7 linked regions of the Homo sapiens genome follow. The protein of the gene in region 4 purifies or fractionates together with the protein of the main gene of each other region. This does not show direct contact. Each region holds a gene or a part of one and is shown on either strand. Other genes may lie near its edges. The genes, in order: RABL6, DCTN4, PPP2R2B, SMC4, TBC1D4, PPP4R2 and USP15.

Region 1 (3,500 bases), on a different chromosome or scaffold from region 4:
AGGCCCAGGGGTTCCACCTCGTAATTTTTGTTTGTTTTTAAATAAGGAAAATGCAAAAAGCGAGGCGACGGCTTAAAGATGGAGAACGACCCCCAGGAGGTGAGTGCCAGGTACACAGTGGGTAGCAGTGGCTCAGGGCCCCGGGGTGCGTGAGCCGGTGCCCAGCGCTTCACACGCTTTTGACCCCAACCACCCCAGTTATGCTGTGGCCACGGGGGCCGCTGGCCTTCCCAACTGCTCTGAAAACCCCACACTGCCATGGCTGTATCTGGGGGTGGCCGGCTCACCTGCACTCGACAGACATCACGTTGGACTGACCCCTATTTGCATTTGAGTGACCTGAGAGGTATTTAAGTGAACTCGCCAAACTTTTATCCCAGTCTCGGTGGGCTCGGCCCTTCAAAGCACAGGACACATCTCGCAGCGCCATGGGCGTGAGTTTCGCTCACCGGAGCCACCTGGGGCCAACCCAACCTGAGCCCGACACACCCAGGGCCTCGCACTCTCCGTGCGGTGCCTCCCACTCCCTTTAGAGCATGGGGTGGAGTGACTCTGCCCACAGCACTGCAGCTAACCCTGTTTGTGGGCACTGGAACCTTCCGGAACGCACATCTAGCTGAGGGCAGCTGGTAGTCCAGCACCCACTTCTATTTTCGAGTGGTGGTTTGGTTATCCGTGAGGCCTGGGGCGGACACTGCTGTGATCAGTGGGAGGTCCTGGGTAGGAGGCTTGTTCAGGGAGCCATCAGCGAGGCTGGTGTTGACCGTCAGACCCTTTGGGGCAAACCTATGTTTAGCTATCCCATCTCTTCAGCATATCGTTTCCAAATGGAAATGGCTGTTATCTTTTCAGATTAGAAGACTATCCAGCCTTTTCTAAAACTGTGGGCCACACGGGTGGGGCCCAGCCTGGGCCAGTCTCACACCTGTTCCCTCCTGTCCCCAGGCGGAGTCTGAAATGGCCCTGGATGCTGAGTTCCTGGACGTGTACAAGAACTGCAACGGGGTGGTCATGATGTTCGACATTACCAAGCAGTGGTAAGAGGGAGCTGGCGGGGGCAGCTGCCTGTGACTCTCACCCCCCTAGCCCCTTGGGCGCCCTCTTTGTGCAGCAGATAATGGTTAGAGCAGCATCGTTCTGCAGGACCGAGGGACTCTTGCTGGGCAGCTGTGGCAGCTCAGCCACAAGGGGCACTGGCCTGGATGTCGGGCTGGGCAACGACTATGCCTGTGCCTATGGGGCGGGATGGCGTGGGCCGGCTGCAAAAGGCATCTGGGGCAAGGCACGCACCTTCCATAGCCCCACTGTTCTTCCTGAAAACCCATCTGAGACTTGGCGGAAGCAAGTGGCTGCTTGTGCTGGGGGCTCCCCGCGACCTCCGTCTTCATGACCTAGGAGGACCCACAGCCAAGATTCATTCTAGCAAGAAGATGACAGCGAAATCAGCTAAGGGCAGTGGCACACAGGACGATCTCTGGGGGACCAGGCGCAAGCCCCCAGAGTCCACTGTGGAGTCGCATGGGATCCACTCAGCTCCTCAGGAGTGCAGTGTCCCCCAGGACGCACCGGAGCCCCAGCGGGGGGGTGCTGCGGACGCACACTTGGCACAAGGCTCCTAGAAGAACGAGGGCCGCGTGAAGACCAGTGTCCTGGTGCAGGGCCCCTCCTAGCCACAGCCAGTGCCCGGAGCACCAGGAGCAGCATGCCCGACACGTCCAGGCATCTGCTCTTCCCAGCAGTGGGTCTGGCCTGGGGGCCTAGTCAGCAGCTTCTCTTACTTGGGAAGACCCCCACACCAGGGTTAAGCGTACCGCCTGTCACGGGGCCGCACACTCAGCACGCATCAGCAGCCCAGGCCTGAGGGCGGCTTGAAGCACCTGACCAGCCATGCTCTGGGCCTCTGCCAACCTTTGCCAATGCTGGGAACCATGCCTGCCCTCCCAGCCTTCAGCACCACCACCAAGGACTGACCGCAGGCACCCTCAGGAGAGCCCTCGGTGGGGGTGTGGCACACGGATGGCAGGAGAACCACACACGGGGCTGGCGGCCCCACCCCAGGGCACGAGTTCAGCTCGGGCGCACACGCTGGCCTCACCTGGGCGAGCAGTGGTGCTCCTCTCCCTCCGGCCTCTCCTGTCTAGGCAGCAGGCCAGCCTGGTGGGTGGGAAGTGGCTTTTCCCAAGCGAAGTTGAGTGTGGACACAGTGTGGCCTCCACGGCACCTCCCACTGCTGCCACAGGAACGGCCTGGAGGGAGCTGCAGCCGCCTGGGCTGCCGTGCGAGGAGTGGGCGGGAGTGACAGCGAGACTTGAGCCAGCCTGAGAAGACGCGGCAAAGGCGCTTACCTGTGGGCCCGGAGACCCTGTTGGCAGCACCAGCCTGGGCAGGCGATGCCTATGGTAGCAATGCTCTGTCTGGAGCCCCTGGTGCCCAGCAGGAAGGATGGAAAACACTGGCTCAGACAGCGGCTTCAAGCACCACGCAGGCCCTTCACAGCCACGAGAGGCAGGAGACACCAGAAGGCCACCTGCTTAGGAGGCCAGAGGTGCCCCTGGGCCGGCCTTGGTGAGGGGCCCGTTTAAATGACTGCGTGTAAATGAAAGAAAATGAAGTTAGAAACAGGATGTTGCATTTTTTACTCCCTTATGTTGGCTTTCAGTCGTGGGGAAGTTTTGTCACTTGAAGCGCTGGTTATTTCTTCACAAGCCATTTGGAAAACCACGCAGCTGGGAAACTGGCAGTTCCACGCCAGGCAGACTCTGGAGACTTGCCGTCCGTGCCAGGAGATGTCTGCTTAAGACAAGGCTCTCCAAACAGCCCGCTTCACCGGCAGCCGCAGAGGCACCCCAGGGTGTCCTCGGCTGCCCCGGTGGGCAGGGAGCCTGGAGGACCAGCCACAGGGTCGACACCAAGGGGCACAGAGGACAGTGCGGAATGAGGGTGGACACAGATGAAGCCAGAGGTGGTTTTGTAGGGATGCGGACATGGGGTGCTCTGAGGGAAGGCAGGGACAGGCAGGGGCGTTCCAGTGTGGGGTGCGGTCAAGTACCTGCCGTCAGGGAGAGGGACGGGCGGGGGCTGCAGGCTGAGGGGTGCGAAGGCCCTCGAGGCACTTCCCTCTAGCTCTGCATGCACGAGGCATGCTTCTGCTGGGTTGGATGTTGGAAATGAGAAGCAGCCACCATCCTCGGGCCTGGGCGCACAGCACCTTTCCAGGGAGGGACAGGGCGTCGCAGGGCTGAAACTAAGCCAGGTCCTCACCTGTTCTCCGAGGACCTTCAATTACATTCTCCGGGAGCTTCCAAAAGTGCCCACCCACGTGCCAGTGTGCGTGCTGGGAAACTACCGGGACATGGGCGAGCACCGAGTCATCCTGCCGGACGACGTGCGTGACTTCATCGACAACCTGGACAGGTGGGTGCGGTGGCCCTGCTCCCGAGGGACCCTGCCCGGTGCTCCGGTGTGCGGGGGAGGGTGCTGAGGCAGAGGCCCAGGGAGGG
Region 2 (3,500 bases), on a different chromosome or scaffold from region 4:
CTAATAGGAATTTCTGAACTTTGTTTAGGACAAATATGGTCTTGGAACCAGGCTTCAGCGACCACGAGCTGGTGCATCCATCAGTACCCTTGCCGGACTTTCGTAAGTTTAGACATGAAATGACTTTGAGGAGAACAGCAGGTATCAAAATGAATATCAAATAAATGAGATTAAAACACACACACACACACAGTTGTCAATGGAAAAGAAGATTCTCATACTTAGAAAAGACCTACGCTATACAGATATTCTATGACAGAGGAATACTTCAATTATTGATATCATAGACTGAGGATAATCAGGTGGATCCGTGAGAAATTACTCTTTTGTTTTGTTTTGTTTTGTTTTTTTAATTTTTCAGCCTTAAAGAAGGAGAGGATCAGAAAGAGATAAAGATTGAGCCAGCTCAGGCTGTGGATGAAGTGGAACCTCTACCTGAAGACTATTATACAAGACCAGTAAATTTAACAGAGGGTAATTTTCTGTGTTTTTCTACTTTGTTTCTAGTCTACATCTAATTCTGTTTTTGTTATTTATGTACCTAGTGATTTGAGATTTTTAATGGAATAGCTGTTAGTAGTAAAAACAATATGTAGAAAATAAAACAGCTGTAATAGAGGTAATTGTTTGAAATCTAAAATGTCAACTTTCTATATTTTCATTTTTATGAACAACACTGTTCGTAAAGGCAGTAATGCTTCGTGTAATTACTGGTACATAAAAGTCTGATTTTGAAAGTCACTGTAAACTAAGCCTGTTTTCTGCCTTTCTTTCTAGTAACAACCCTTCAGCAGCGTCTGTTACAGCCTGACTTCCAGCCAGTCTGTGCTTCACAGCTCTATCCTCGCCACAAACATCTTCTGATCAAACGGTCCCTGCGCTGCCGTGTAAGTATTCCATTCTGTAGACTGACCATTTGTACAAGAGGAAAGCAAAAATAAATGTGGCTGGTGTCTGACTAATGTCAAAACCTTTGGAATGTATTAAATACAGAAAATACTTGTAGAGAACATACTAATTGCCAGGCACTATTTTAAATGCTTTCAATATAAACAGCTCTTACAACTCTGTGAGGTAGGTACTACTGTTAAACCTGTTTTACAAATGTAGAAAATGAAGTATCTGAAGGTTAAGTACATAGGGTTAACCCCTAAAAGAATAGTGAAAGAGTGTGAACTTTTAGGCTAGTGTTCAGGCTCAGGGAGGACCAATAAAAAATAATCAATTTAAAAGAAAGCAAGAAAAATCAGCAAAATCCAGGCTCTGGTAATCTACAGAACAAATGACAGAGTTTCTTCAATAAATAAATTGTAAAAACAAAATGGAAAAGAAACCTTTTAGAGGAGTACTATCCAACAGAACTTTCTATGGTGATGGAAGTATTCTGTGTCTGTACAGTCCCGCATGATAGCCACTAGGCACATGTGGCTCTTGAGCACATGAAATGTGATAGTGCAGCTGAGGTACTGAGTCAGTCTTTAATTTCATTTAAATAACCACATGTCGCTAGTGGCTAATGTTACTTAATCATTCTCTAGATTAGAAGAGACTTAAAAGTTTACCAAACACAATGTATAGAGTTTACGTAGATTCGGATTCAAACAAAACAGAAAGAAAGGGCCCAGGGGAGGAGGGAAGAAGGGAAAGAGGAAAGAAGGAAAGAAAAATTTGTGAAATCTTTGAGAAAATTTAAACACTGGTAGCATTTTCGATGCTATTAAAAAACTATTGGGCAGGGCACAGTGACATGCACTTGTAGTCCCAGCTACTCTGGAAGCTGAGGCAGGAGAATCCCTTGAGCCTGAGGAGTTTGAGACTGTAGTGTGTGATGATGGTGCCTGTGAATAGCCACTGCACTCCAGCCTAGGCAACACAGAAAGACCCTGTCTCTTAAAAAAAAAAAAAAAGTATTTTTTCTTTTTTAGGAATAATGATAGTACTTTGTTTGTTTGTTTTTTAATGTCTTTATCTTTTGGAGATACATACAGAAATATTTATGGAGGAAATGACTTGGTCTCTGATATTTGTTGCAAAATAATGAGGGATGAGGAATGGGTAAGAGTATAAATGAAACAAGATTGGCCATTGTTGCTAATTTTTGATAACAAGATGCTGATTCTTTTTGTTTGTTTAACCTGAGAGCATAGATTCAAGTCCTGCATATATATTCCGAAGTTGATAATCGTTGAAGTTGGGTGATGGGTACCTAGAGATTTGTAATACCATTCTATATTTTTGTACACGTTAGAAAATTTCTATAATGAAAAACCTTTATAAAAAGAAAGAAAAAGAAGGGGCAAAGGAACATTGAATTGGTAGTTCAAATAGAAAGCCTGGGCTCATGCCTGTAATCACAACACTTTGAGAGGCCAAGGCAGGAAGATCACTTGAGCCCAGGAGTTTGAGATCAGCCTAGGCAACATAGTGAGACCCTGTCTCTACCAAAAAAAAAAAAAAAAAAAAAAAAAAAAAAAAGCCAGTGTGGTGGTTCACACACTTGTAGTCCCAGCAAGTCAGGAGGCTGAGGCAGGAGAATTGCTTGAGCCCAGGAAGTTGAGGCTGCTGTGAGCAGTAATCACACCACTGCACTCCAGCCTGGGTGACGAAGCAAGACCCTGTCTGTTAAAAAAAAAAAAAAGATTGTGTGTGGTAAGATAGTAGATTAAAATCCAGATGTATCAGTATTTACATTAAATACCAATGAACTAAATGCTTCCATTAAAAGACAAACATTGTCAGTCTAAATAATAAAGCAAATTGCAGTGATCCATCTATATGCTTATTACAAGAAGCACAAACATGAGAACTCAGAAAAGTTGAAAGTAGAGAGAAGTGGGAAAAATATTGGACAAACACTAATTTTTTTAAAAGAGGGATAATTTGTTTAAAAAAAAGATTCAATTTACAAAGAAGATATAACCGTCTAAAGTCATGTGCACTGAATAATAGACTCAAAATATATAAAGCGACATTTGAGAAAATTACATAAATGGACAAATCATTTTGGGAAATTTTGACATACTTCTCTCAGTAACCGAGAGAACAAATAGATGAAAATCAGTAAGAATATAGAACATTTGGACAATTTATCTAGCAAACTTGACCAAATGGGCATATATAGACTACTGTACCCAATGTCTGCAGAATATATGCATTCTTTTCAAGTACACACAGAACACTTATAAAGGTTGATTATATACTGGATTATTATAAAGTAAGTCTGAACATTTTTCAGAAGATGAAATTCTTTTTCAGTTAAAAGAAAGTTTTTATTAACAAGAAAAGATTTAAGTCACATTTATACTTTATAATAATAAATAGGCTAAGATGCTCAATAACACAAGACTTTCTCTTTTGAACACTTTATTTCCATTTAGTACTCTTAAATACATTTGCTTGTTGTGTGTTTATATTTTAATAGGTAAAAGTTATGAATTACCAGCTATTTTGCTACCTAACTGCACGGGAAAATGAAAATTTATAGAATTTTATCATTAGAT
Region 3 (3,500 bases), on a different chromosome or scaffold from region 4:
TCAGTCGGGGCTCAGTTGCAAGAAATGATTTGCTTGAAAAGAAAATAGCTTTGGTTATTTTATTATCTTGTTTCTATTAAGTGACCACACCTGTGTTGTGGGGTTTTGTCTGTCTTGGGTGTTTTTTTAGTTTGTTCCCTCTCAGGCATTAGTGTTCTTATTCTCTTTCTTTGTAGCCAGTTCACCCAGAACTCAAAGGAGGAAGAGTGATAGGTCTTTGTTCACATTTGCCAGAAAGACGGTCATGTGTGGGAAACTATTTAGTTGCCGATTCTCTGATCCACCAGAAAGAAATCATTTAATCATGTATTCTTACTCATTCAACAAATACTTACTGAGAAGTATTTATGTATCAGTAAGGTGACCATATCATTAATGTTCAAACTGGGACAGTTTTGCATGTAAAAGTGGACACTACCTGGTTCGCACTCTAAGACAAATATAAACCAAGATTTTCTCAGTCAGATGTCATTGGGTTCCCTATATATTAGTGGCTGAATTTGGACGATTAGAGTCTTGGGTGATGCTAAAGTTTCCCAAAATGCCCTTAAGGATTAAGGACAAAGCCAGGAAGGGGTATAGCTTCCAAAGCCATGAGATGAAAAGACATAAAAGATAAATTTAGATTAAAGTTGAACTAGACATTTCTAAAATTTTCCCACAACTCCCTTTTTTAAATAGATTTCATGTTTAAAAAAAAAATAGAACAATGTCTCTGGAAGGTAATGACTCCACAATGGAAGCCAAGTTCCCCTGAGATGAGGCTACCTGGAGGGGCTTAGAAAAATGTTTAGAATTTATAAAGAATGAAATTTCCCACCAGGGCTAAGTGATGGTGATATCTTTTGAAAGAGGAGGAACAGAATGGAACAAGAACAGTGTGTGATTCGTTATTAGCCTCTTCTTTCTCTAACTTGGAGTTTCTTCAATGTGGCTATTATTTTGTGTGTGATAATAAATGATATTAGCATGCACACTCTTTTCCTATGGAAGATCTTTGGTTCTGAAGTGATTTGTTTCTCTTGCATCCCAGGTGCCTGTCCTGAGACCCATGGACCTGATGGTGGAGGCCACCCCACGAAGAGTATTTGCCAACGCACACACATATCACATCAACTCCATATCTGTCAACAGCGACTATGAAACCTACATGTCCGCTGATGACCTGAGGATTAACCTATGGAACTTTGAAATAACCAATCAAAGTTTTAGTATCCTTTCTTTGTGATCAAGAATCAACTGGCCTGAATTAAGAGTATTCAGGTGCGAGTGGGCTGGGAGAAAATATGGAATAGAAATGCAACACCTAGCATTTGCGGAGAACTTGCCCCTTTTAAAATACACTGGCACCTATGAGACTCTTTAATCATAACAATAAAGTTAGGGAAATATTGTTATTACAAGTGGGAGGCCAGGGCTAGCTCTGGATTGGGACTCTGAATCAATTCCTTCATACAGAGGCATTTATATGTCACGAATTAAAATTAGAGGTGATTTTATCAACAATAGGATAAGACCCTAGAGTTCAGGTTCTTTCTCTGTTAAAGGATTCATAAATCTGTATGGACAGCATGGACCACAGACATACTGGTTTCCATTGTCTCATAATAGTGAAAATAATAGTGACTGACATTTATTGAGTTCCAAGCACTTGCAATGGGAACTTTATAGTATTACATTTTTTACCTCATTGAAGTATATTATGCATATAGAAAAGTACATATTATAATTGTACAGTTTGATGAAATGTATAGTATACATATTATAATTGTACAGTTTGATAAAATGTACAGTATACATATTATAATTATACAGTTTGATGAAATTTCAGAGGTTGAACTCACCTATAACCAGCATTGACATCCAGAAACAGAACTTTGCTAACAATTCTCAAGCCCCCATCATGCCTCTTTATATTAATAATTTCTACCCCCAAGGACATATTTGATAAAACAACCCCATAATGTAAGTATCATTATCTCCTGTTTAATTAAAATATAGAAAAGTCGGCTGGCCGCAGTGGCTTATGCTTATAATCCCAGCACTTTGGGAGGCCTAGGTAGGTGGATTGCTTCAGGTCAGAGGTTTAAGACCAGCTTAGCCAACGTGGCAAGGCCCCAACTTTACTAAAAATACAAAAAAGAAATTAGCCAGGCATGGTGGCGGGCGCCTGTAGTCCCAGTTACTTGGGAGGCTGAGGCAGGAGAATCGCTTGAACTGAGGAGGCAGAGGTTGCAGTAAGCCGAGATCGTACCACTGCACTCCAGTCTGGGTGACAGAGCCAGACTCCATCTCAAAAAAATAATAAAAATAAAAAATATATAGAAAGGTAAAAAAAAAAAATGCTGAATAGCTGGGCCAGTATTTTCACCCCCACTATGTTGACCCTCTATTTCATAGTAAAAATTGGTCATTTATTGAATACCTATCATGTGCTCCATTTCTCACAAACCTAAGGCATGAGATTTATGAGGAATGGCACTGAACAACTCAGGTAACTGAACAATTGACCTAGGTATCAATATGGAGTTTTCTCTTCCACTTACCAGCCTCCCCTACTCTAACTCCATCTATCCATGAGCCCTGCCTCTAAAATATATGTCAAATCAACGCATATATCCCTATCTACCTACCTACACTAGCATAAGCCACTGTTGTCTCTCACCACTGTGACTGCAATAATCTCATCTGGTCTCCATTCATTCTTGCTCTTTTATACAGTACGAACCCTTCAACATGTAATTCAAATATCATTCCTTCCCTGATAAAAAACATTCCAGTAGCTTCCCACTAAACTCAGAATAAAATCCAAGTTATTTAACTTGGCCTATAAGATTCTGCGTGATCTGGAACCTGTCTCCATCTTTGTTATCCAGTCTTGTCACGCTTCCCTAATTCACTTCATTTCAGCCAACTAATCACTTTTCTGTTCCTAAGTAAACCTTATTCTTCCATTCTTTGCATTTGCTGTTCCCTCTTTCTAGAATATTTTGCCCACAGCATTCACATGGCTAGTTACATGTCACTTCAGGCCCCAGAGGTACTCTTTCCCATTAACTCTTAAGTAGCTACCAATAACACTATCCCTGTTATTGTCATGGTACTTACCATGATTTGAAATTTTTTTACTTATGTATTTTTGGTTTCCTCATGTTAGGATGTAAATTCTACAAGAGCAAGGGCCTTGTATGAACTATTGCTGTATTCCAGTACGTGGAACACTCTGACATACAGAAAATTATTGAACCTGTCAAGTTCGAAATAATAGTAGGTCATCAAAGTAGCGCTATCCAGTAGACAGTTCATAAAATCTAACCTGGAAATTTAATTTTAAGAGTTATAGTAAAGCTCTGAAGGTTCGTTTATAGAATAGACCCCATAATGGCTCAAACAAATAAAAGATTATTTTCGTATGAAGTCTAATATTGATGATCCCCATCAGCAGGCAGCCTCCTCCAATCAGTAATTCAGAAACTCGGGCCTCTTTCATTTGCAGCTCC
Region 4 (2,402 bases):
TCCAACTTTTCTTAGGTGGTCGAACACTGAAATGATTAAGAAAATCATAGTCAAATTACCTGTAAAGCTAAAGTTAAGACTTTGTGATTTGCTTTCCATAATTGAGTTCTACTATCTTTTTTAGGAATCTGTAACTTGCTTTTCACAAATATGAATTCTCTTTTCTGTTATTTTATAAAAACGTTATTGGAGGATGCATACATAGGAGCACATACCAAAGTTTTAAGATTTAAAGAGCAAGCTAAGTATTATACTTCTTGCTATTCTTTCTCCTTATCAAATACAATTTCTCAATCCTCATGTTAAAAATGCCTTGAAAATTTAAGAAAAGATGAACTAGACAAATATTTTGTAAATACTGGCTGTCTGCCCCTGTAAACTGCAAGCATAAATAGCATGCAAGCAAATTAGTATTTACTAGTAAATGAAACAAGTTGTACATCTTGCCTTCACATCCTACCTCCAAGAAATACTGAGTTTGGAGAATATGTAGAAAAAGGTAACAGTGGGATTATAAACTCAGCATAATTACACACCTGAACATGATTCCTTCAGAGAAAGGATCCAAGCTGTCTACAAGCTCGAGTTCGGCGTCCCCTCCCAAAGTAAGCATTTGGTAATTTTCCTTTAATTTATTTGTTATTATATAAAAACCTGCCATAAATTCATTAAGCCTTTGTTTCCGAAGATCTTCATATGCCTGTCTAAAACTGTCTCTTTCATAAGTAATTTTGTCCAATTCTGCTACCCGTTGCAAATACAATTCTTCCTGTGAAAAGATTATGATAGGGAAAATCTATTCAGATAAATTTGATATGATAATTAGCATTGTTAATTATTACTTTGTTTTGAGACGTAGTCTTGCCCTGACGCCCAGGCTGGAGTGCAATGGCGCGATCTCGGCTCACGGCAACCTCCACCTCCCAGGTTCAAGCGATTCTCCTGCCTCAGCCTCCCGAGTACCCGGGATTACAGGCACGTGCCACAACGCCTGGCTAATTTTTTGTATCTTTAATAGAGATGAGGTTTCACTATGTTGGCCCAGCTGGTCTCGAACTCCTGACCTTGTGATCCACCCGCCTTTGGCCTCCCAAAGTGCTGGGATTACAGGCGTGAGCCACCACGCCCGGCCAACAGCATTGTTAATTATACAAAACTAAAGATCAGAATTTAGGCTAAGGACTAAAAAGAACTCCAACTAGTATACATACACAGTTCATTCATACCTTCTTTTTATACTCTGCGATGGCACCGAGGTTTGGTTTCATTTCATGACACCGGGCTTCCAAAAGTGCAATTTGATTTGTTATAGAATCTGGATTCTTGATCGCTTCAAGATCCTCTGGGCTTAGAACCGAAATCTCTTCAATAGGATTATCTTCTATAGGATGCAGTGATATTTTTGAAATCTAAAAGTTCAATTTAGGGGAGAGTTAGAGAAGGCATAATATTACATACAATTCATTGTTTAAAAAAAAATATGACAAATTACACAGCTATGAAAACAACAGGAGTTGTGACTGATTTATCAATTATTTTTCAAAGGACTTCAAGAAAAATAGTTGTAACACTCAAAAGTGTCCATGTAATCTTTTCTTAAATGTCCAGATCAGCCCTAGGGTGAAAGGGTAGTTGTCTAATTCTAATCGTTACTCAGACTTTTCTGTATATAACAATTTATATTGTTATGTCCCCTATAAACCTTAGAAGTGATCACAGAATTAAAAATCACAATGTAGCTCACAAACAAAATTTAAGAACCCCAACCCCCTAAAACAATCCTCCCCAAACCCTCCTTTTTCATAAAGAATATGTTTAAAATTAAACTAAACGGTAACAATCTCACCTCTTTGTGCCAATATTTTATTTTAGAATTATGTTCAGCAATGTGACCATCTATTTGTTCAAGTTTCAACTTAATACTAAGTGCATCTTTTTGAAGAGCATGTTCATTTTCTTGAATAACTTTTAATTCTTGAAGCAGATTGCGATGTTCTTTCTGGATCTCTGGTAAGGATTCCTAAACACCGAAAAGAACTGCTAGATAGAATTTTCCAAATAGAGCCATCATTTTCACATTACAGAGATGAAGGAATTACCAATCTCTCCTCATGCCCCTTCCATTTTAAAATAATTTAAGCATTTAAATTCACAAATTATAGTATTCTTATTGTACAAATAAAAATTGATAGTTATAAAACTTTAAGTCTATGAGTGCTTACTACATTCTAGGCACTGTCATATATCCAGCTCTTTAAATTGGTTCCAGTATCATCCCATCTCCTCTTCAATACAAAGCAACTCATACCTCTGCAGCATTTGTATTCTTTACGACCTCTGCTGCTTTGTCCTCAAGACTTTTCAGCTCTGCTGTTAGGTCATCCACCTCTTTCTCAGTATCT
Region 5 (3,500 bases), on a different chromosome or scaffold from region 4:
AATTATAGACATAAAATACTTCTTGGTACTTACAGTCCATATTAAATGAATGTATAAATCCGATTTACATGAATTTTTGTAATGTCAAATTGATGAATAATTTTTAAGTTGAAATATCATTGTATTTTTAAACTGATAGCTATTATCCTTTTATCTGTGGACCCAGATCAAACACTACTCACAGGTACTTCCCTGTATCTTTGAAATTCTAATAATAGCTACCAAACCGTTGTTTCTGAAAATCAGAATTATTGAATTCCTTACAAGACCATCTGATTCCTATCTGATATTAAGATACAGGTGACCAGGCACAGTGGGTCACGCCTGTAATCCCAGCACTTTGGGAGGTCAAGGCAGGTGGATCACCTGAGGTCCGGAAGTTTGAGACCAGCCTGCCCAACACAGTGAAACCCCAACTCTACTAAAAATACAAAAAATTTAGCAGGGTATGGTAGTGCATGCCTGTAATCCCAGCTACTCGGGAGGCTGAGGCAGGAGAATCACTTGAACCCAGGAGGTGGAGGTTGCAGTGAGCCAAGATCGCGCCACTGCACTCCTGCCTGGGTGACAGAGCAAGACTCCGTCTCCAAAAAAAAAAAAAACGATAAAAAGATAAAAAGATACAGGTAAACTCTTTAGGAATAAAAAATAAAACTTTCCACAGTTGTTATTTGACTTGTTAAACCTACGAATAGTCATCAATGAGGAATCAAATCATATGAACTCACACCAGAAAACCTAATGTTGATAGCAAAGCCCTATCTCCCCAGTCAAAATTTTACCTTCAGAAAGTAAAGAAAAATGGAATACTTCATCTCCATTCATACTCTCAAAAAATATCATTTACTATAACGCTCAGACTAAAAATACAATTCTTTTGTTATACATTGGCAACTGAGATATTAAAGGCAAAAAACTCATCTCTGGGAAACAGAAAAAAATAGTATATTTTAAAAGCATCTTTAAACTATTACTTCTTATCTAAAGCACAGTATTATGATGAACTGGGAGTCATGCATACCTCATTTCAAGGGAGGAAAAACCTGAGAATCCTCTTTAAAGTCTTCTTTTATATTTTTAACCACTGAAAGCTTTAAATTGCCAGGCAGTGGTTGTTTAAGTATCTATAGACAAAATTTAAACTGCTTATTAGCAACCAACCCACTTAGAGAAGTGAAAACTAGGAGAGAAATGTGCAAACAGGGAGTCTGAGGTAGGCTAAAGACAGCAGTGGCAGTTAATACCCCACTCAAAATACCTGGAAAATCTTAATGGTGCTTCTTCAGAGCCTGCTAAGAAAAGCAGACTCAGTGGCTCAAGCCTGTAATCCCAGCATTCTGGGAGGCTGAGGCGGGCGGATCACCTGAGGTCAGGAGTTCAACACCAGCCTGGCCAACATGGTGAAACCCCATCTCTACTAGAAATACAAAAAAATTAGCCAGGCATGGTGGCACCTGCCTGTAATCCCAGCTACTGGGGAGGCTGAGGCAGCAGAATGGCTTGAACCCGGGAGGCAGAGATTGCAGTGAGCCGAGATCGTGCCACTGCACTCCAGCCTGGGCAACAAAGCAAGATTCCATCACACACACACACACATACACACACACACACACAAAGCAGACTGAAAAGGCACCACTGGCTTTCACACTTTTTCCTCTGTAAAGGCCTATCTTACATGAAGATAAAGGAGGGGAGATATCAATGATAAGTTCAAAAAGAACCATAACATGGTATCTGCTATTTGTGTACTCAAAAGTAAAGGGATAAAGATACTTTCAGATTGTAAACAAAAGATCTGTGAGCCTTTTCAACTGAGAAGTTGAGAAAAAGTGAATAAAGATGATTTGATACCTTCTCCATGTAACCCATAGACTTAGGGCATAAAGGACTGGGTCCTCATCACCTACCTTTCTTAAATTACTTATTTACTTACTTCAGGAATTTTATGGAAAAGGTATTCTGCCTCTGGGTCTCATACACTTAGAAGTTTACCTAAATAGCAAATCCCACACTAAGTGAACTAAAACATGCCCCAATCTTTACCCAAGTTCTAAGACAATGGCTCTACATTTCTTTAAATCTGAACTGTAATAATTGAGAAGAGGGCCAGGATTTCTGGTAATAGTCTCACACCTTCCTCGGGAAGCACAAGTGCCTCACCTGCAGCGACATCATGTCAGGTCTGTACTGCTTGCGGAAGCCGAGGTCATACATGAGGAATTTCAGCATTTCAAAGGCTTGCTCTTCACTCATGTGCAGAAGCAGGACTCCAGCCACAAAGCTGATCCCCTGACAGTATCCCACTTCTTTGTCCAGCAAAGAATAGGCTTTCAGGAGGTTAAACAGTGACAGCTGTCCTGGCCCAAGCTGTACTGAAAAGTAAGGGTGAGTAGGAAACGTCCTTCCTGCAGAGGAAAAGAAGGAAAATATTTTTTGAAATGTCCTCATGCCTTGGAGACAACAGTGAAATTGCAATTCAGTGACCTCCAAGAATAAACAGACACTCTTTCCCAAACCAGTGAGAGTTGCTTAGAGTCACCATGTAACTAAGAGTCTCTCCCTCTCTCACCCCAAGTTCTGCCAGGCCACCATACCATCTTCACATATACGATATGGGAGGAAACATTTTATGCTAACCAGTACTTCTTTCCAGCAAAAAAAAAAAAAAAAAAAAAAAAATACAATAAAAATCCACAAACCAATGATGTACCCAGGAGAAATACCAGGAAAATGGAATATAAATTTTATTCTGACTATAAAGCAAGGCAAATTCTAATTCATATAAAGACTACCTTCTAAATGAAACCAGAAGTCTGTAAGACATATTATATTATTTAAAAGAAAATCTTCATAGTCTATAAACAGGTTTATTTCTGCTTTTCTTATGACACTGGAGGGACTTTTTGGGTTTGTTTGACTTTACATTCAGACTGTCATTCAGAAGAAAACTGCTTTTTCAACTATCGTTCGCTCTCTGCTCTTAAAATACCTCCATGAGCCATGTAAACCACTTTTCTTTTTCAATATCTAAAAATATCAAGGAAAATAAAGGGTCAAGTCAATTTCAAATAAATTCCCCTCTAAAATATACCTCTAGGTATAAAATTACCACAGAGACACTTGAGCTGGCAATGTGAGTCCTGCATCACTAAAAGGAGAGTTCTATACACAGAAACAAATCCGTCTTCACATCAAAGCTGTCTATATTGGTATGGGCATTTTTCTAGGGCCACAAAAATGAAGGGGGATGTTAGCTTCCTTGTGAAATGATTACTCATGTCATTTAGAACTTGCAAGAGTGCCAGGTTTTAAAATGTTTTCTCCCACATATGCTTAAAAGTGATTTTTTTTTCTAGGAACCAATAAGATTAATTCTGCAGAGCCAGTAAGAGGAAGATATGAGAAAATAACAATTGCATGCTGAAGAAACACAGATGGCTACAAGCAGAGCCAAATAAGCAATTTTTAAAATTATGGTTTTACTTTCTCACTTAAAATTT
Region 6 (3,444 bases), about 87 Mb from region 4:
AGCTCAAGACCATGGGTTGGAGAATTAATGTTCACACTTCTATTTGGAGACTTTGAATCCCCTCTACACAAGCTACGCAAGTCAAGTTAGTTGCCAAGAAAGCACAGATGACAACCTATTAATGCTGTGAGAATGTTTCTAGATCAGTGCATGGATGGCTCCATTGCTCTACGGGCCATTGTGTCTGAGATCCCAGTCTTTGAGGAGAAAAAAAACAATGGTTAAAAAGGCATTGGGGAAATATTTTGAGTTTGGGGGTGTACTTTGCCACCCCATTATTGGGGAGCTGTCACCACGAATGTTCCCAAACTTAGCAACAGCGGCAAACTACTGGGCCAAGATGAGCAACCCCACATTTTTGGGATTTAAAGCTCCTGATGTTATACCAGGATCAACCATCACACTCCCTTTGCTTCAAATGGCATCTACCCCGTAAGATCTTGAGGGGGGAGTGTTGGGTGGAATCATAGATCCATGCACTCCTAACATGAACTAATTCTCATTATTTAAAAAAAAAAAAAAAAAAAAAAGTCCAGGTGTGGTGGCTTAACGCCTGTAATCCCAGCACTTTGGGAGGCCGAGGTGGGCCGATCACTTGAGGTCATGAGTTTGAGGCTAGCCTGGCCAACATGGCAAAACCCCGTCTCTACTAAAAATAAAAAAAATAGCTGCGCATGGCATCACACGTCTGTCATCCCAGCTACTTGGGAGGCTGAGGCATAAGAATTGCTTGAACCTGGGAAGTGGAGGTTGCAGTGAGCTGAGATTGCACCACTGCACTCCATTCCACCTTGGGTGACAGAGCCAGACTCCATCTAAAAAAAAATTAAGTCATCCACAAGTGTATTTTCTTTTCTTATAGGAAAAACAATTCCAATAGTTTAAATCGAATGAATGGTGTTATGTTTCCTGGAAATTCACCAAGCTATACTGAGAGGTGAGATTCTAGATTTTTAATACCTACAGAGTTTGCATTGTCCTGATTTTGAGTAGCAGGCTTAGTGTACTTTTTAAAAATTGGGCATTTTATGGACACCATAGGATGAACTACATAGAATTAGTTAATTTGGTAAGGCATGGGCCTGAAAACAAAGTTGCAGCAAATACTTCTGTGATGTATTCACATCAACATACCTTAAGAGGGATGACTTTTTATAAAAATAGGAAATGATGTTCATTTATCTTATTATAGGTCTAATATAAATGGGCCTGGGACACCCAGGCCACTTAATCGACCAAAGGTTTCTTTGTCAGCCCCCATGACAACAAATGGGTTGCCTGAGAGCACAGACAGCAAAGAGGCAAATTTGCAGCAAAATGAGGAGAAAAATCACAGGTTTGTATGTTTTATATTTAAAAACAGTGTTTTTATTAAAAGTTAAAGTTAACATTTAATCAGTACTTATCACTTACTATTTATAAGTTCTGAGGGACAGAACAAGGTTTTCATGCGGTTTATAGGAGCACTGGCTTCTCTTTGCAGCTGTAGCAAATGTTGAAGGTGGACATAGACAAGACTTAAAACTGCTAATTTGTGGAGACTGTTTATGTAGGGTCTAAAAGTAACGTAGATATGATGATCCATTTCATTTGTTGTTTCTGAAAGTTACTTGAAAAGAAATGATCTTTATAAATAAGTTGATTTTTGTGAGTCGTTTCTCATTGTAGTTCATAAAAGGACACCTTTTGTTTATATCTTCAAATTTTCTGTATCACATTAAGGGAAGGAAGACTAAATGAGGGAGAGGACTTAAGAGAGTATGTCCGTATGGAAGACTTGCGGGTTTATTGTAGGAGAATATTTAACTTACTGGAGAATTGCACAGAAAGGTCATATAGCTTTTCTGAGTCCTACTGGGAATTATTCATCAAACAGTTTAGTTTACCTTGAAATTATTCTCTTGTGTTTTTCTTTGTTCAGGTGTTATAATTTAACTTTGACACTGAAATACAATTTAAAACATTATTTAACCTTAAAAATGGGGATGTAGAAGATGGGGAAAATAATCTTATTAATGACACTTTAAAAAAACATTTACAGTGACTCTTCGACCTCTGAATCAGAAGTTTCCTCAGTGAGCCCTTTGAAAAATAAACATCCAGATGAAGATGCTGTGGAAGCTGAGGGGCATGAGGTAAAAAGACTCAGGTTTGACAAAGAAGGTGAAGTCAGAGAAACAGCCAGTCAAACGACTTCCAGCGAAATTTCTTCAGTTATGGTAGGAGAAACAGAAGCATCATCTTCATCTCAGGATAAAGACAAAGATAGCCGTTGTACCCGGCAGCACTGTACAGAAGAGGATGAAGAAGAGGATGAAGAGGAAGAAGAAGGTATTTAGAGACCATCTGTAAAAGGGTGGAGTAAGGAGATCCTCAAATTCTTGTACTTCATTTTTTTCGTGAAAGAATTTTACGTAATGGAACTCCTTATAATGCTGATGTTGGGCTTTTCTCCCACCTGTATGTAGTTGCTGCTGAATTTCAGGGGATGTGATTTGAACTATAGAATATCAGAATTCATGAAACTTAACTGTGGAGGTATTTTGAAAATACAATTTAACTACAACAACATTTGCTTATTTTTAGAGTCTTTTATGACATCAAGAGAAATGATCCCAGAAAGAAAAAATCAAGAAAAAGAATCTGATGATGCCTTAACTGTGAATGAAGAGACTTCTGAGGAAAATAATCAAATGGAGGAATCTGATGTGTCTCAAGCTGAGAAAGATTTGCTACATTCTGAAGGTAGTGAAAACGAAGGCCCTGTAAGTAGTAGTTCTTCTGACTGCCGTGAAACAGAAGAATTAGTAGGATCCAATTCCAGTAAAACTGGAGAGATTCTTTCAGAATCATCCATGGAAAATGATGACGAAGCCACAGAAGTCACCGATGAACCAATGGAACAAGACTAACTATTTAGAAACATTTAGATGCAGTATTTTACATACAGTTCTGGTTTTAACACTGTATAAAACTTTTGTGTAATAAAATGGACCTTTAGTTTTACAAGAGAAGCAGGTTGTAAAATAAAGTACTTTATGGATAATTCCTGAAAGAGTTGTACATGTAAGAACTGTGAATATCAGCTCCTCTGGGTCCTGCTTACCTTACCGCTGACTTTTCTTTCTTTCTTTTTTTGGTCTGGGCAAATCAGTGGTTTGTGTATAGATTTTTTTTTTTTTTTAATTTAGGATTGAAGTTTTTAAACTGGAAAGTAATTACAATTTTGAAAAGTTTTTTGAGATTATCACATTTAGTTTATACATATGCAAGAAGCTTTTTGTCTTGTCTCTTTCTGATAGCTCTAGCAGTTTTCATATTTTGGTCATAGTTTCAACATTTTAACATGTGAATTATAGGGTTTCATGCTGGTTTCCAGATTTTATTGTTTGGCTACGTACAATGGAACTTTAAGTCATATATACATACATATATATATATATA
Region 7 (3,500 bases), on a different chromosome or scaffold from region 4:
TTTATTATTTTGGAAAAAAAATTCAGTAAATGAGAGTGACCTCATGGTTGCTATCTCACATTCATTTGGCATTTGGATTAGTGTTTGTCTCCAATCTTGCCACTATCCTGGGTCCTGTGTGACAATGCCCACATGGATAATTTGTCCTAGTTTTATCATTCCTTGGCTCCTCAATTCAAAGACACTTGCATTAATTCAACCTCAGTCAACTTATTAGATCCTGTCATTACTTGAAACTGCTCCCACTTTTGCTATCTTTTTTTGTTTGTTGTTTAGAGACAGGCTCTCACTCACTCTGTTGCCCAGGCTGGAGTGCAGTGGCATGATCTTGGCTCACCGCAGCCTCAACCTCCCGGGCTCAAGCCATCTTCCGAATTCAGCCTCTTGCGTAGCTAGGACTACATGCGTGTGACACCATGACTGGCTAATTTTTATTTTTTAGAGACAAGGTCTCATTATGTTGCCCAGAATGGTCTCAAAATCCTGGATTCAAGTGACCTTCTGCCTCAGTCTCCCAAAATGCTGGGATTACAGGACTGAGCCACTGCACCCGGCCCCACTTTTAGTATCTTAAACTCGGGTTACTGTCTAACCACTACTTCTTGCTTCTCCTGGAAATTCATTCTTATCTCTTCTTGTCTTGCACAGAGATTTCTATTCCTTTTAACTCTTGTTTTCTCCCAGTTTACCAGCTCCCTACTGTCTTCTAGCCCTTCCATCCAGGCCCTACATGCTTTATCACGAACCTTTAATGTCTTTGTTACTCAATTCTATTCATTCCACTCTTGCTAAACTTTCTCAGAGCTGTTCACATGTGCTGAAGAGAATTTCCCAATTTTAGAGGCTGGTGTGCTACAAATCCACAGTGCCCAATATCAATTGATCCTTTGACAGTACTCAGAAATAATTCTGCATATCACACATGTGGTTATTCTCTCATTTATCTCAATAACTATTTAAAATCTTCATTGGGCTGGGCCCAGTGGCTCACGCCTGTAATCCCAACACTTTGGGAGGCCAAGGCAGGTGAATCGCTTAAGCCCGAAAGTTCGAGACCAGCCTGGATAACATGGCAAAACCCTGTTGCTACAAAAATACAAAAAATTAGCTGGGCTCGGAGGCGCACACCTGTAGTCCCAGCTACTTGGGAGTCTGAGGCGGGAGAATCCCTTGAGCCCAGGAGGCGGAGGTTGCAGTGAGCTGAGATCACACCCTAATGTACTCCAACTTGGGTGACAGAGCAAGACCCTGTCTCATTAACAAAAAAAAAAAAAAAAAAAAAAAAATCTTCACCATTCTTTAGGCTTCCTATTTCACTACTGCTCCCTTAATATCAGCAGAATACCTATTTCATCTCAAAAACAGAAACTACTGGGTGGGAAAATCTCCAACTTCCTGTTCTACTAACTTCTTTGAATCCACATAGGTACTTTTCTGTCTCTTGCAACACATGGAAAGAAAGATGTCTCTCTTCTTATTCAAAGCTAACCTTAGCGTCTATGTTCTAAATCCCATGCTCTTCTGCTTTCTCTGGGACCTAAACCAAGCAATTATTCTTTCTTCCATTTTATCTCAACTCTTGCATAAGCATTGGAATATAAAGTCTCTCAAAAAACAAGGGTACCTCATTGCTTTCCCTCTAATTATCTCCCCTTCTCCTCTATTTTATAAATAACTTTATTAATGATATCTATATTATCATAACTTCCTTATCTCCCATTTACTTCTCAACCCTCTTGCTGGCTTGTCTTCGCCTCTTTATTTAACTTGTTTCCAAGGTTGCCAATAATGTTGTACAACTTATCAGTCTTTATTTTATTGACCTCTTTGTAATATGACTGCTGACCACTTTCTCCTTAAAAAATTCCCTTTCCTTATAACACGACTACTTTTAATTCTTTTCTATTGCTGTGATCATATTCCTCTTTTGAAGTTCTCCTACATTGTTCTTTAGAGTGTTGTCTTTAGCCTTCTTCTCAATTTTATATGCTCTCCTTGGAAGAGGCAACAGTGTCTCCTGATTTGCTTTGGCCAGTCCTGGATTAGCCTGCTATCCTAGTATAATTATTAATGACAGTCCCTTCTATTTTCAAGAGTTCTTGTTTAGATGATAAATCACGGGGTCACCTTAGCCTTAAGTAATCTCATCCTTCTAAAACACTATCATTTTCATAGAGCTGATTGTCCAATTTATAGCTAAAGCAGTCTCTCTCCTTTGGTCTAGATACACAAATTCAATGCCTACTGGATATCTCTACCTAAGTGTTCCTCATGCATCTGTAAGTCAGCATATCCAATACTAAACACAGGTTTGGGTCATGTTAGGCCACCACGTTCAATACTAAAATGGATTCCTTCTTCAACTTGTTCTTCCTATATATTCCACTAAAACAGCACTGCTGTCTCCTCTTTTCCTGTCAAGTAAACTTGGCATCATCTTTGAATATACTTACACATTTTCACTTCCTACATTCAACTGGTTCTTCAAACTGCCATCCTGACAGAGTTGAAGTGTTTGTCATTTGTCTGTCGTCTGATCATTAAAAGCTTCTTACCTGGTCTTAGTACTAAGCCTTTTCTAACTGATCTCTGTGCTACCCAGAATCATCTTTCTGAAACATAATTGTGGCCATATAATATCTATACTTAATAGTCTTTAATGGCTTCCCTAGTTTTTAGGATGAAGTTCAAACTTCCTATACTGGCATCAAAGTTCTTCGTGATCTAGCTCCTGCTTGCCATATTAACTACTGTAGATTACAGAAGTGGGCCATGTCCTCTTCTCCCATAAGTTCTTTGTACATGCCATTATCTTGGCCTATAATGCTTTTATTTCTAGTTTTCACCTGCTTATAACCTAATTGTCCTTCAGAATTTATCACAGGCCTCATAACCAGTTTGGGTAGGTTACTCTGTGTTCTCTTGCAGCACCCTGTCAGAGCAATTTTCACACTGTATGACAAGCTTCTTGAAGAACAAGGACTAGAAACACCATTATATTTCTAGCACCTTGCACAGCATAAGAGCCTAAGATATAATATATATTCAATATTTTTCCTAATAAGCTTCCATGACCTAAATCAACTTCAATGACGGGAAAACTCAACAAATAGGGAAACTCAGCTAATTTCACTTTTCTTACAAGCTGGTCAAAGCATAGTGTTAATGAAATGAGGTGATCATTTTGTATTTGAGTTGTTACTGCCTCTAAATGGAAAAAAGGAAAAAAAAAAAACACAAAACACAAAAACAAACGAATTTCTCTGTGCTAACCATGGCTCTAACCTCCGCAAATTTATATTATTGGTCACCAAATGAGAAAAGTGATAAGTCAATGAAATTCACATTGCTGGAAAAATAATTTAGAGCCCAATTTATGGAAGAGCACTTATCATATACCTTATGGACTAATGTGTAAATTAATGCAATTTGCCACTATTGATATAGATTACCTTATATTATTGGCATGGGAGAATATTATCTCTAACAAATGTGCTGTA

What was found.
Region 1: the proteins of SMC4 (region 4) and RABL6 fractionate together in Homo sapiens (co-fractionation; one large-scale study listed by BioGRID). This does not show direct contact.
Region 2: the proteins of SMC4 (region 4) and DCTN4 fractionate together in Homo sapiens (co-fractionation; one large-scale study listed by BioGRID). This does not show direct contact.
Region 3: the proteins of SMC4 (region 4) and PPP2R2B purify together in Homo sapiens (pull-down; one large-scale study listed by IntAct). This does not show direct contact.
Region 5: the proteins of SMC4 (region 4) and TBC1D4 fractionate together in Homo sapiens (co-fractionation; one large-scale study listed by BioGRID). This does not show direct contact.
Region 6: the proteins of SMC4 (region 4) and PPP4R2 fractionate together in Homo sapiens (co-fractionation; one large-scale study listed by BioGRID). This does not show direct contact.
Region 7: the proteins of SMC4 (region 4) and USP15 fractionate together in Homo sapiens (co-fractionation; one large-scale study listed by BioGRID). This does not show direct contact.

Annotation. Positions count from the first base shown.
Region 1 is NC_000009.12:136,828,448-136,831,947, forward strand, and holds part of RABL6 (rab-like protein 6), read left to right. Parts: intron 1-46; coding exon 47-99; intron 100-945; coding exon 946-1,037; intron 1,038-2,509; exon of another isoform or gene 2,510-2,576; intron 2,577-3,273; coding exon 3,274-3,414; intron 3,415-3,500. UniProt on the Homo sapiens protein: May enhance cellular proliferation. May reduce growth inhibitory activity of CDKN2A.
Region 2 is NC_000005.10:150,728,018-150,731,517, reverse strand, and holds part of DCTN4 (dynactin subunit 4), read left to right. Parts: intron 1-28; coding exon 29-102; intron 103-361; coding exon 362-474; intron 475-777; coding exon 778-887; intron 888-3,500. UniProt on the Homo sapiens protein: Part of the dynactin complex that activates the molecular motor dynein for ultra-processive transport along microtubules.
Region 3 is NC_000005.10:146,648,258-146,651,757, reverse strand, and holds part of PPP2R2B (serine/threonine-protein phosphatase 2A 55 kDa regulatory subunit B beta isoform), read left to right. Parts: intron 1-1,033; coding exon 1,034-1,211; intron 1,212-3,500. UniProt on the Homo sapiens protein: The B regulatory subunit might modulate substrate selectivity and catalytic activity, and might also direct the localization of the catalytic enzyme to a particular subcellular compartment.
Region 4 is NC_000003.12:160,430,650-160,433,051, reverse strand, and holds part of SMC4 (structural maintenance of chromosomes protein 4), read right to left. Parts: coding exon 2,309-2,402; intron 2,021-2,308; coding exon 1,847-2,020; intron 1,410-1,846; coding exon 1,227-1,409; intron 770-1,226; coding exon 537-769; intron 27-536; coding exon 1-26. UniProt on the Homo sapiens protein: Central component of the condensin complex, a complex required for conversion of interphase chromatin into mitotic-like condense chromosomes.
Region 5 is NC_000013.11:75,297,170-75,300,669, forward strand, and holds part of TBC1D4 (TBC1 domain family member 4), read right to left. Parts: intron 2,406-3,500; coding exon 2,161-2,405; intron 1-2,160.
Region 6 is NC_000003.12:73,062,811-73,066,254, forward strand, and holds part of PPP4R2 (serine/threonine-protein phosphatase 4 regulatory subunit 2), read left to right. Parts: coding exon of another isoform or gene 1-90; exon of another isoform or gene 91-527; intron 528-862; coding exon 863-937; intron 938-1,192; coding exon 1,193-1,336; intron 1,337-2,041; coding exon 2,042-2,331; intron 2,332-2,586; coding exon 2,587-2,912; 3' UTR 2,913-3,444. Other genes in the region: EBLN2 (endogenous Bornavirus-like nucleoprotein 2), read left to right, coding at 1-90. UniProt on the Homo sapiens protein: Regulatory subunit of serine/threonine-protein phosphatase 4 (PP4). May regulate the activity of PPP4C at centrosomal microtubule organizing centers.
Region 7 is NC_000012.12:62,385,904-62,389,403, reverse strand, and holds part of USP15 (ubiquitin carboxyl-terminal hydrolase 15), read right to left. Parts: intron 1-3,500. UniProt on the Homo sapiens protein: Hydrolase that removes conjugated ubiquitin from target proteins and regulates various pathways such as the TGF-beta receptor signaling, NF-kappa-B and RNF41/NRDP1-PRKN pathways.